Regions from separate parts of the Homo sapiens genome. Here region 2 is linked to region 1. The links come from fine-mapping of genetic effects on gene expression. A gene starts in region 1. The other region holds a variant in brackets. All regions are shown on one strand. Distances are from middle to middle.

Region 1 (5,380 bases):
CCACCTGCCTTGGCCTCCCAGAGTGCTGGGATTACAGGCATGAGCCACCACGCCTGGCCCTAAATCTTAACTTTTTACTTACCTAAGTCTGTAATGTTATCTTATATCTTGTACTTCAAAGTATTAAAAGTACCTTTAACACCATATTTTTTAGTGAAACATTCTGCCAAACTGAACTAATTACTCATTTCATTGTTCCAAATGAAGGGAAGTGAAATACCACATTACCTAGCAATTTTAGTGATCCTAATGCAATCAGCAAGGAAGCTTTGCAATTTTATTTTTTCATCTTATTTCCAGGCACCATCTCCTTTAGCCAAACCACCCATTTCTACACACCCTGGCCTTCAGTACAATGGACTACAACACATTCCTCAAACATACCATATACTTGCACACTTATCCCTGGTTTTCATTCATATCTCCTGTTTCCTGACCCAATTTCAGCAAACTCCTATTCATCCTTCAAAGCCAAATTTAATATCTTCTCTCTAATCGTCCTCCCTACCACACGCAGAATGATTTTTCCTCATCAGTGGTTAAATTCTATCTATACTTCTTTCTTTTTCTTGCAACTCTTCAAACGTACCTAAATCTATACTTCTTTACAGCTCTTATCATGCTGAAATTGTAGAGCCTTATTTACATGTTGGGTTATAAGCTTCTTAAAGACAGGGAAGCATTTTCTCTTCTTGAATCTAATACTTAATTTACAGTCTGAGAACAGATATTTTTAACTTCTTAATGAAAGAAGTTATGAGGTGCTTTTTAATGAAAAATAAGCACCTCATATTGTTAAGATAATGCCATAACTGTTGTTACTGAGGGACTGAGAGCTTAGAATCATCCCCATGTCATTCACTGGCAACAATAACAAAAAAAGGGTTCCCACAGATAAACTATAATTACATCGTTTTAATTGCAATAAAACTGGTATTGCAATACCAGTTTATTTTTTCCTCTTTCTTTCCTTCTTTTTGAAATAGTTTTTTATAGACCTCTTTTTAAAATACCTATTAGATGTCATTTGTATCTCACTCACAGAATTTGAAACTCAGTATAGCGCAAAGGTTACAATCAGGTCCTTGGAGAATGACTGATTTGAATCCTACTTTTGCTATCTAGGTTGTCTAATCATGGGCAAGTTACTCAACCTCTCTATGCCTCTTAATGAGATAATCATAATAACATCCCTCATGGTGCTGTTGTGAGGATTAAGTAAGCTAATACATGTAAAGAATTTAGAATACTGCCTGGCACAGACTAGGTACCAATGAATGATAGCTGATGTTGTTATTGTTACCATCCGCTTTAAAAACAGCTTTTGTTTTTTCAGTACTTATTTTAGCCCACTTGGTAGAATGGAATCTCCTAGATGACAGGAATTACATACTGCTCTTACATAAATATAATCTTGTGCCTATTGTGTAGTAGGCCCTCAAAAAACAATGTGAATGTAAGGTTTCAGACCTCCAAGATCAAGAAATTGTAAATCACAGAAAAATTTATACATGGAGTACGTTTAAAACTCATGTTTTAAAGTAGCTTCAAAAGACCCATCCTCCACTGAATTGCTGAAACATGTTTAAGTAAAACTTCTAAAGCAACACACACAAAAATTACATTCACTAGTAACTTTCCCTCTACTACTTCATTTAATTTGATCTTGGTATCCAGTGGTCTAAAATTCTTGCCTATAACTTAAGACTCACTACAGACCATTTAAAAGTAATATAATTTCCAGCTTTAGAAAACTGCTTATTGTCATTAAGAAAAATAAATATTCTTCCTTTATTGCTGCATTTAAAAAACGTACTGCCACATTCAACACACACACACACACACACACACACACACACACCCCAACTAATGAAAGACCAAGACACATAATTACTACATTTCCTGGTTTCTGCCTGGCAAACTCAGAACAGGCCTACAAGTATCCCCAGCAAAAGCCTACAGGTTACAAAACTGCCATTTTCTTTTTTATTTCCCATCTCCCCGCTAAAATCCCTCGCACACATATCCATAGTAAAGAACAAAAACGTCTATAATAAAGGCTGTATGAAAAAATATGGCTATATATTAACAATATTTTGGAAGATTTAAATCTTCCTATAAGCAGCCCGTCAATTCACAAAAACAAATTAAAGTCTTGATTTGGAACAATATTCCCAGCTTACTTTAGCAGGTATCTTAAACTACAACTATTTAGCTAAGACAAAGAAGTAGATTATTTGATTGCTACAGACTTCGCGGTAAATGATTCAGCAACAGTGTATAGATAACACCACTGTGCTATTCTAGAAAATTTCATCAATCATTTAAAAATAGGACACACTCAAACAATGGGGGTCACTTTGTGGGAAAAGTTTAAACAACTTATTTACACAGTAAGCAAGGATCTATCACTTTATCTAAAACACTGCAGAAGAATCACTAGCTTTAGGGTAAACGTTTGTAAAGTGCCTACTATGTACCAGGCAAGTAGTAGTTGCTTCACAGAATATACACGCTCCACACGCACGTTCAAATATCTGACATTTGTAGAATACTGTCACTCATCTGATTTGACCCTGAGAATACCCATAGGCATGAACTTGCCAGTTTCACAGTTACGGAAAGAGAGGCCCAGGAAGTTAATTTGGCCGAGGTATCACATCTGGTTCCGCGGGTTCTGGCCCTAGACTTGAGCCTTTTGACTCATAATCTAATCATCAGCTGCTATACAGCTCTAGTTACTCAAAAGCTCTTAGGTGTTCCACTGTCAGACTTTTAAATTAAAATTCTACTTGACAACTTTCGGTATTGTGCGTATTAGATGCTGTTAAGAATCAAAACACCAAAAAAAGCAAAATATTGTTTGGAAGTGCATCGTCCCAGCATGTCGAAGTTCAAGCTCACTGGCTAATTTTGGAGAAAGCCCGCGTTTCCCCAGGCTGCCGGGCGCTCCCTCCCTCTTCCCCAGCAGAGAGCGGCGCCCAGCCTAGGGGTCCCCAAGCCCCTGAGGTAGCGAGGAGGTCTTCAGCCAGGCTCCGCCACAACCCGTGCGGCCACGAGAGGACGTCCCAAAGCTGGGCCCAACAACCGGTTGCTCCTCCGGACGGAGGAGGTGCCGAGACAGCGGGGCGCGGAGACACCACCTCCGCCAGCTCGGCTCGCACCGTCCGAGGACTACGCCGCGGCGCCACAGCCCCGCACCCGACGCCCAGAAGGGTGATGCCGACAGCCCCGAGAGTCCGAAGCCCCTGCGGCTTAAAACCCCGCGCCGAATCACCCCGACTCTTACCTGTCTGTACCTCAACGTTGTCTCCTGTGGCCAAGCTAGTCTCCCGGGTATCACTCGGGTCCGCTCCGTCCCGCCCCCGCAGGCCCTGCCGAAGGCCCCGTCCCGGCTGCAGCCCCACCCCCTAGCCCCGCCCTCCCTGGCAAGGCTCAGTTCTTATTGGCTCCTATTCCCACCCCTCACGCTATGCCCGCCTCCGACACCGCCCCGGCCGGCGGTGAGGGGAACCACCACGCCTCAAGTCCGCTGTATGGCCAGAACCTTGCCAGGACCTCGGTCACTGCAGTTCCAGCAGGCGGGCGACCAGTGTCACCGTCGTCCGGCCAAGCCCTCGAGCCAGAGCTCCATCGCCTTCGCCTGCCGTCGCATCGGCCCCACGGAGACGGCCCTATGCTTCATGTGAAGGTTTACTCTTCACAACTACTCAACAAGATAAAGCCTGGCTTAATCAGGGAATCCAAGCACTGTTTCCTAGGCTGACCTCAGTGAGCAAACAATTGCACTACGGTGCCAACTTGAAACGTCAAGAGAAGCAAATAACTCTCGCGGCACCTCAGGCTTGGAATCTCAGAACGGGGGTGCCTTGATACTCCCAGTGCGTGAGGTCAGCCCCCACGCCCTGTTGAGACACACATGCCTAAGCGCTCCGCCTGCAACACGCTCTTGCTTAGGTATGTGCGTGGTGTTGTGCCTACTGCAAGCTGTAACCCAGTTTCACCGAGGCTGCGGGACAAGGATCAGTTGAGCCTGTTTCCCAGGCACTCGCTAACCACCCCACCCCGCCTCGCCCCGCCCCACCCCACCCCACCCCACCCAGCCAGAGCCTCTTGGGTCTGGTGACCAAACTCTTCCTACATTTGTTCACACAGAGGTACCAAAATAGAAGACTACCAGAAAGAGAGGTGTTTAGTTACGTATCACGGATGACTGTCACAAGCAAACTTAACCCAAACAATAAAGGTAGCATATCCCAAACCGTTGTGAAACTATCACCTGTAGACAGTAAAACAGAAATTACATTCTATGATGGGGGAAAAAAAAGTAATGACATACTTAAAAAAAATCATGTCCCAATGAGGAAATAAATGTGGATATTGTTTGTAGTAAATTTTGCACACTGATCATTATGGGCTTCCCCCACCAAAAAAAAAAAAATTCTTATATAATGTGTCTATCTATTTATTTATTGAGACAGGGTCTCTTTGTGTCACTCACACTGGAGTGCGGTGGCCCAATCATAGCTCACTTGAAGTCTCAACTTCCTAGGCTCAAAGAATCGTCCCACCTCGGCCTCCCAAGCAGCTAGTATTATAAGCATGCACCACCACCCCCGGCTAATATTTTTATTTTTATTTTTTTGTAGAGACAGGGTCTCGCTATGTTGCCCAGGCTGGTCTCCAACTCCCGAGCTCAAGCAGTCCTCCTGCCTCAGCCTCCCAAAGTGCTGGGATTACAGACATGAGCCACTGCACCCAGCCCAGAAATGTATTTTTTGACCCCTGCATTCAGGAAGATTATTTGGCAAAATAAGGCAGGTTGAATTCCAAGTATCACGTATGAAACCAAATTTATAGATTAATAAATGAATTCACATGTATGTATTCTACTGCCCTCTCATGGGTAAGATGGAGATATACATAATGGTAGTTAATGCCCTTTGAAGTCTGAGAATACAGTGTTTAATGTAGCAATTTGTACTATTTTGATGATGAGGAGGCCAAGGTAAAATAAAATCTGGTTCTTTAAAGGGTTCACAAATACTCAACAAACAAAACTTCAACTTCAGAAATCAGGAAGAGATTCTTACACCAGAGCTAGTACAAACATGCCATCAGGGTTACACCTATGCTTATGGCTGCATGTGTAGAATATAGAAACGTGCAGAAATTTGCTTTCAATTTTTTTTCCATTTGAAAGTTCAGGCTGGGCACAGTGGCTCACGCCTGTAATCCCAGTACTTTGGGAGGCCAAGGCACATGGATCGCTTGAGCATAGGAGTTTGAGACCAGCTGGGGTGACATGGTGAAACCGCGTCTCTACAAAAGGTTCAAAAAAGTAGCTGGGTGTGGTGGCATGTGCCTGTAGTCCTGGCTA
Region 2 (5,380 bases), 120 kb before region 1:
TCAGATAGAGAGGTCAGCTTCCCTGCTCTGCAGGTTCCCCCCTGAGGTCAGATGACTTTTGCTGAATTTACCTGATGAGGGTTGAGATACCATCAGATCTTTCAAGAAGCTCTCTTGCCATTCTCTTAGAGTTTTTTTTAAAGCCTTGGTTCCCCTCTAGCACTGGAAATGGTAGCTATGTGTCTGCCTGCTCACTAAGTGCAAGTAATTGGTGATAACTCCAGCCCATTGCTGAATGTGAACTTGAGAAAAGAAGGCTGATTTTTCAGGCGTACCATCCCTCTTAAAACCCTAAGTTTTAAGTTGGTCAGAGGATAACCTTTGCAATGTAGACACTAGAATTTGTTCAAAAAGGGTGAATAGGATCTTTTTTAAAAAATGTAATATATAAAAACCTTTTAAATTATTAGATTGTCTCATTTTAAATGTTTTCCCCATTTTGTGGTTTTTAAAAATTATGGTAAAATATACGTAACGTAAAATTTACCATTTTCTACATTTTTAGGTGTACAGTTCACTGGCATTAAATACATTCATATTGTTGTGCAACCATCAGCACCATCCATCCAAAGAACTTTCATCGTCTCTAATTAAAACTCTTCTCTACCTGTTAAACAACTCCTCATTTCCCATTTCCCCAGCCCCTGGCAACTCTCATTCCATTTTCTATCTCTATGAGTTTGTCTACCCTATGTACCTTACATAAATGCAAATAACCTCTTAGTTAACGTGAAAATTAGTAAAAAGAGATGTGACTATATAGAAAAAACATGTAATTGTGTTTTTATGTGCAAATGCGACGACAGTGTGTGTGTGTGTGTATATATATATATATGCTATTTTGCAACTTCCTTCACTTAGCAATATAGTATTGTTATTTGTTATCTAATGCTGCATAACAAATTGCTCCAAACCTTGGTGGCTTAAAACAACATTTATTATCTCACAGTTTCTATGGATCAGGAATCTGGATGTGGCTTTGTTGGGGCTCCTGTTTCAGGATCTCTCAAAAGGCTGCAAGTCAAAATGTTGCCCAGCAGGAGGATTGCTTGAGCCCAGGAATTTAAGGCTGCAGTGAACTATGATCACACCACTGCATTCCAGCTTGGGTGATAGAGTGAAAGCCCAGCTCAAAAAAAAAAAAAACAGGCCGGTGGCTCACGCCTGTAATTCCAACACTTTGGGGAGGCTGAGGTGGGCAGATCACTTGAGGCCAGGATTTCGAGACCACCCTGGCCAACATGGAGAAACCCTGTCTCTACTAAAAATACAAAAATTAGGCCAGGCACGGTAGCTTATGCCTGTAATCTCAGCACTTTGGGAGGCTGAGGTGGGTGGATCACTTGAGGTCAGGAGTTTGAGATCAGCCTGGCCAACATGGTGAAACCCCGTCTCTACTAAAAATACAAATATTAGCAGGACGTGGTGGCATACACCTGGAATCCCAGCTACTCGGGAGGCTGAGGCATGAGAATCACTTGAACCTGGGAGGTGGAGGTTGCAGTGAGCTGAGATCGCACCACTGCACTCCAGCCTGGGCGACAGAGCGGGACTCAGTCTCAAAAAAAATAAATAAATAAAATAAAAATAAAAATTAGCCAGGCATGGTGGCAGGTGCCTGTAATCCCAGCTATTCAGGAGGCTGAGGCAGGAGAATCGCTTGAAACCCAGGAGGCGTACATTGCAGTGAGCAGAGATTGTGCCACTTTACTCCAGCCTGGGTGACAGAGTGAAACTGTCTCAAAAAAAAAAAAAAAAAAAAGAAAAGAAAAGAAAAGGAAAGGAAAAGAAAAAGTGTCGCCTGGGACTGCAGTAGACTCAGGCTTGCTCATGTTGTTGGCAGAATTCACCTTCTCCCAGGCCATTGGACCACGGAGTGCAGTTTTGCTCTGGCTGTCTGCTGGAGGCCACCCTCAGTTCCTTGCCACATGGACTTCTCCATAGGGCAGTTCACAACATGG[C/A]AGCTTGCTTCATCAGAAGGAACACAAGAGTCAGAGAGTGAGAGTAGAGTGAAAGTCAGTCTCTTATCATCTAATCTCAGAAGTGACTCTCTATCACTTTTGCCATATTCTACTTGTTAGACGCAAGTCACTAGGTCCAGCCCACACACACAAAAGATGATACAACGGTGTTAATATCGGAGGCAGGAATTGGGAGCCACTGTAGAAACTGCCTACCACAAATATCTTTCTGTTACCAGCATATATCTCAACTTCATCCTTTTTTTTTTTTTTTTGGTAATAGTTACTCTTTTTTTTTTTTTTTTTTTTTTTTTGAGAGAGGGTCTCTGCAGTACAGCGGCACACTCACAGCTCACTGCAGCCCCAACCTGCCAGGCTTAAGTGATCCTCCTAGCTCAGCTTCCCAAGTAAGTGAGACTACCGGCACATGCCACCAGGCCTGGCTAATATTTCTATTTTTTGTAGAGACAGGATCTCGCCATGTTGCCCAGGCTGTTCTTGAACTCCTGGACTCAAGCAATCCACCTGCCTTGGCCTCCCATAGTATTGTGATTACAGGTGTGAGCAACTATGCCCAGCCTACTCTATTTTGAGATAAATGTCTGCAACTTAAAAAATTTGTATAAAGATGAATATACCTCTGCATCATGGAGAAGACTGCAGAGAGCCTACTATCCTTAACCTCTTCCTTGAAGGATAAACATAAATTCATCAAGAAACAAAGTGGGGAAGGTATTCCAAGGAAAGAAAAAAGCACATGAAAATGGGTAAAAAATGGAAGGATGCATCATGGTGGGTGTAGAGAAACAGGAAATTTTTTCTTTTCTTTTTCTTTTTTTAGATGTGGATTCTTGCTCTGTTGCCCATGCTGGAGTGCAGTGGCATGATCATAGCTCGCTGCAGCCTTGATCTCCTGGGCTGAAGCTGGCCTCCTGCCTCAGCCTCCTGAGTAGCTGGGACTACAGGCACGTGCCCACATCCAGATAACTTTATTTTTTTGTAGAGACGGGATCTTGCTACGTTGCCCAGGCTAGCTTTAAACTCCTGACCTCAAGTGATCTGCCTGCCTTGGCCTCCCAAAGTGTTGAGATTACAGGTGTGTAAATCTCTAATGCCTGAGATTACAGGCATGAGCACGTCTGGCTGAAAATTTAAATATGGTTTGAGGAAGGGGTTCAGGCAGACGAGATTTACAAGATTTGGAAATAATAGCAGCATCTAACATGTGCCAGGCACTGTTCTATGCATTTAATGTGTAATAATTTATGTAATTCTTACAACAACCCTATCAGATACAGTAGAATTATTGTGCTAATTTTCCACCTGGAAAACAGACACAGAGAAGTAAATAAACTTGTCTGATATCACATAGCTATTAAATGACAGTTTGACTCCTGGCAGTTTGACTTCACTGCTAGGTTCACTATCTGCCTTTCTTTTATTTATTTAATTTTTTTTAAATAGAGACAGGGTCTCACTATATTGCCCAGGCTGGTCTCAAACTTCTGGGCATAAGTGATCCTCCTGCCTTGGCCTCTCAAAGTGTTGGGATTACAGGTGTGAGCCACCATGTCTGGCCACTATCTGCCTTTCTCTTAAAAACTTTGTATGCCATGGTAAGAAGTTTAGATTTTAATTTTAGGTAACAGGCTGGGCGCAGTGGCTCACACATGTAATCCCAGCACTTTGGGTGGCTGAGGCAGGCAGATCACTTGAGGTCAGGAGTTCGAGACCAGCTTGGCCCACATGGCAAAACCCTGTCTAGGCTAAAAATACAAAAATTAGCCAGGCTTGGTGGCAGGTGCCTCTAATCTCAGCTACTCAGGAGGCTGGGGCAGGAGAATCACTTGAACCCAGGAGGCAGAGGTTGCAGTGAGCTGACATTATGCCACTGCACTCCATCCTGGGAAACAGAACGATACTCTGTCTCAAAAAAAAAAAAAAAAAAAAAATTGGAACAAAGAGCCAATGATTTTTAAGCAAAGGAATGGCTTTATTAGATTAATTTTGGGGGAAGATTACTTTGGTACCAGCTTTGAGGGTTAACTAGTAGAACAAGAAAGTTTATAAGGAGAACAAGGAAGAGACTATTCCTATGATTCAGAGATGAGGAGGACCTGAATTCATGACAGGTGGCAGTGAATACACAGATCAGGATTAGTGTGCCATTTCCAAAGTAAATGAATAGGATTTGGTGCCCAGTTGGATATAAGGATTAGGGAGGAGTCAAGGACAACAAGTCAAGTTCGAGAATCTTGCAGAGCATCCAGGTGGAGCTGTCAGTCGCAATACTGCTGGGGAGAGAGATATGGCTAAAGATACAGATTAGTGAGTCATCCACTTCACTGGTGGTAATTAAAGTCTATGGGAATGGATTGCTCAGGTTAGCTGATCCAAAACAGAGCCTTAGGGAACACCAGCATTCAAGCAATGGGCAGAAGAAGAGAAATAGCCCATGAAAATACAGAGAAAGATGGGTAAAACAGGTAGGAAGATAATTAAAATACTAAACAGAAAGCAATAAATACCATAAAAGAGGTACAAACAAAGTAATGTGGGAGTTCAAAGTAGGATTACAACTTAATCTGAGTCTCTGTTAACTCACCTGTAAAATCAGGTTGGACTAAGTGATCTCTGAAATCACTTTTGTCTCTAAACCTTTGAATCTATTCAGTGTCTACCATGTGCCCATTAACATGATAGATGCTATGGAAAGAAAGGCACAACCCCTACTCTAGAAGAGCTTTCTTAATTTAGTTTTTTGTTTGTTTTTAGAGATGGAGTCTTGCTCTGTCACCTAGGCTGGAGTGCAGTAGCGCAATCCTAGCTCACTGCAGCCTTGAACTCCTGAGCTCAAGCGATCCTCCCACTTCAGCCTCCCAAGTAGCTGGGGTTACACACACGCACAACCATGCCTGGTTAGAAGAATTTTCGGTTTACTGGGGAGCTTAGTCTCTGCACAGCTACTGAAACAAAACAAAACAAAAAAACTGGACAAACAAAACCCACTGGAGATGGAGATCATTTATAATTAAGGGTTGAATTTTGTGGCATAGCCTGTGGGCTGCAATCCAGAGAAGGAAGGTGTAATAATATGTGTATAGAAGCTTCGTGGAGGAAGAGAGTGGACTTGGGCTGGATTCAGATAGAGAAGAATAATGTGGGCAGAAATAAAGGTATGAGTTCACCTACCTGATAACTTGAAGACCTCGGCTGGGAATTCATGGGAAGTAAGGTTTTAGATAGGTAGCACAAGGCCTACCTTACTAATCAACTTATATAACTTAGTTGGGACTTAGAATAGACATGGAAGCAGTGGCGAGCTACTGTAGGTTGTTGGGCAGGTTTGTGATGTTTATTGTACGGGATATATTGATAGCTATTTTTATTGCACAAAATGTCTATCGCTATGATACGTT

Alleles and levels. Alleles are on the strand shown, and positions count from the first base shown. SD is a standard deviation of normalised expression in the study named.
With allele C in place of A in region 2, the expression in tibial nerve of the gene that starts at base 3,356 in region 1 is lower (moderate effect, 0.64 SD a copy in GTEx).

Evidence for each region. PIP is the estimated chance that this variant, and not a neighbour inherited with it, causes the effect. A credible set is the group of variants that fine-mapping cannot tell apart.
Region 2: its variant is the best candidate, but not a certain one, in a credible set for the expression of DENND2C in tibial nerve (GTEx, PIP 0.64).

Annotation. Positions count from the first base shown.
Region 1 is chr1:114,666,694-114,672,073 of GRCh38, forward strand. It overlaps DENND2C (DENN domain containing 2C), which reads right to left and starts at 3,356. Exons shown (of 21, transcript NM_001256404.2): 1 at 3,290-3,356. It overlaps LOC124904354 (a long non-coding RNA gene), which reads left to right and starts at 3,718. Exons shown (of 2, transcript XR_007066465.1): 1 at 3,718-3,957; 2 at 4,156-4,261. RefSeq lists a silencer at 3,360-3,449 and an enhancer at 3,570-3,729.
Region 2 is chr1:114,550,497-114,555,876 of GRCh38, forward strand. No RefSeq gene overlaps it. Among named protein-coding and RNA genes, the nearest start is that of BCAS2, 28 kb to the right of the region's middle. The variant C/A (reference allele first, on the strand shown) is at 1,962.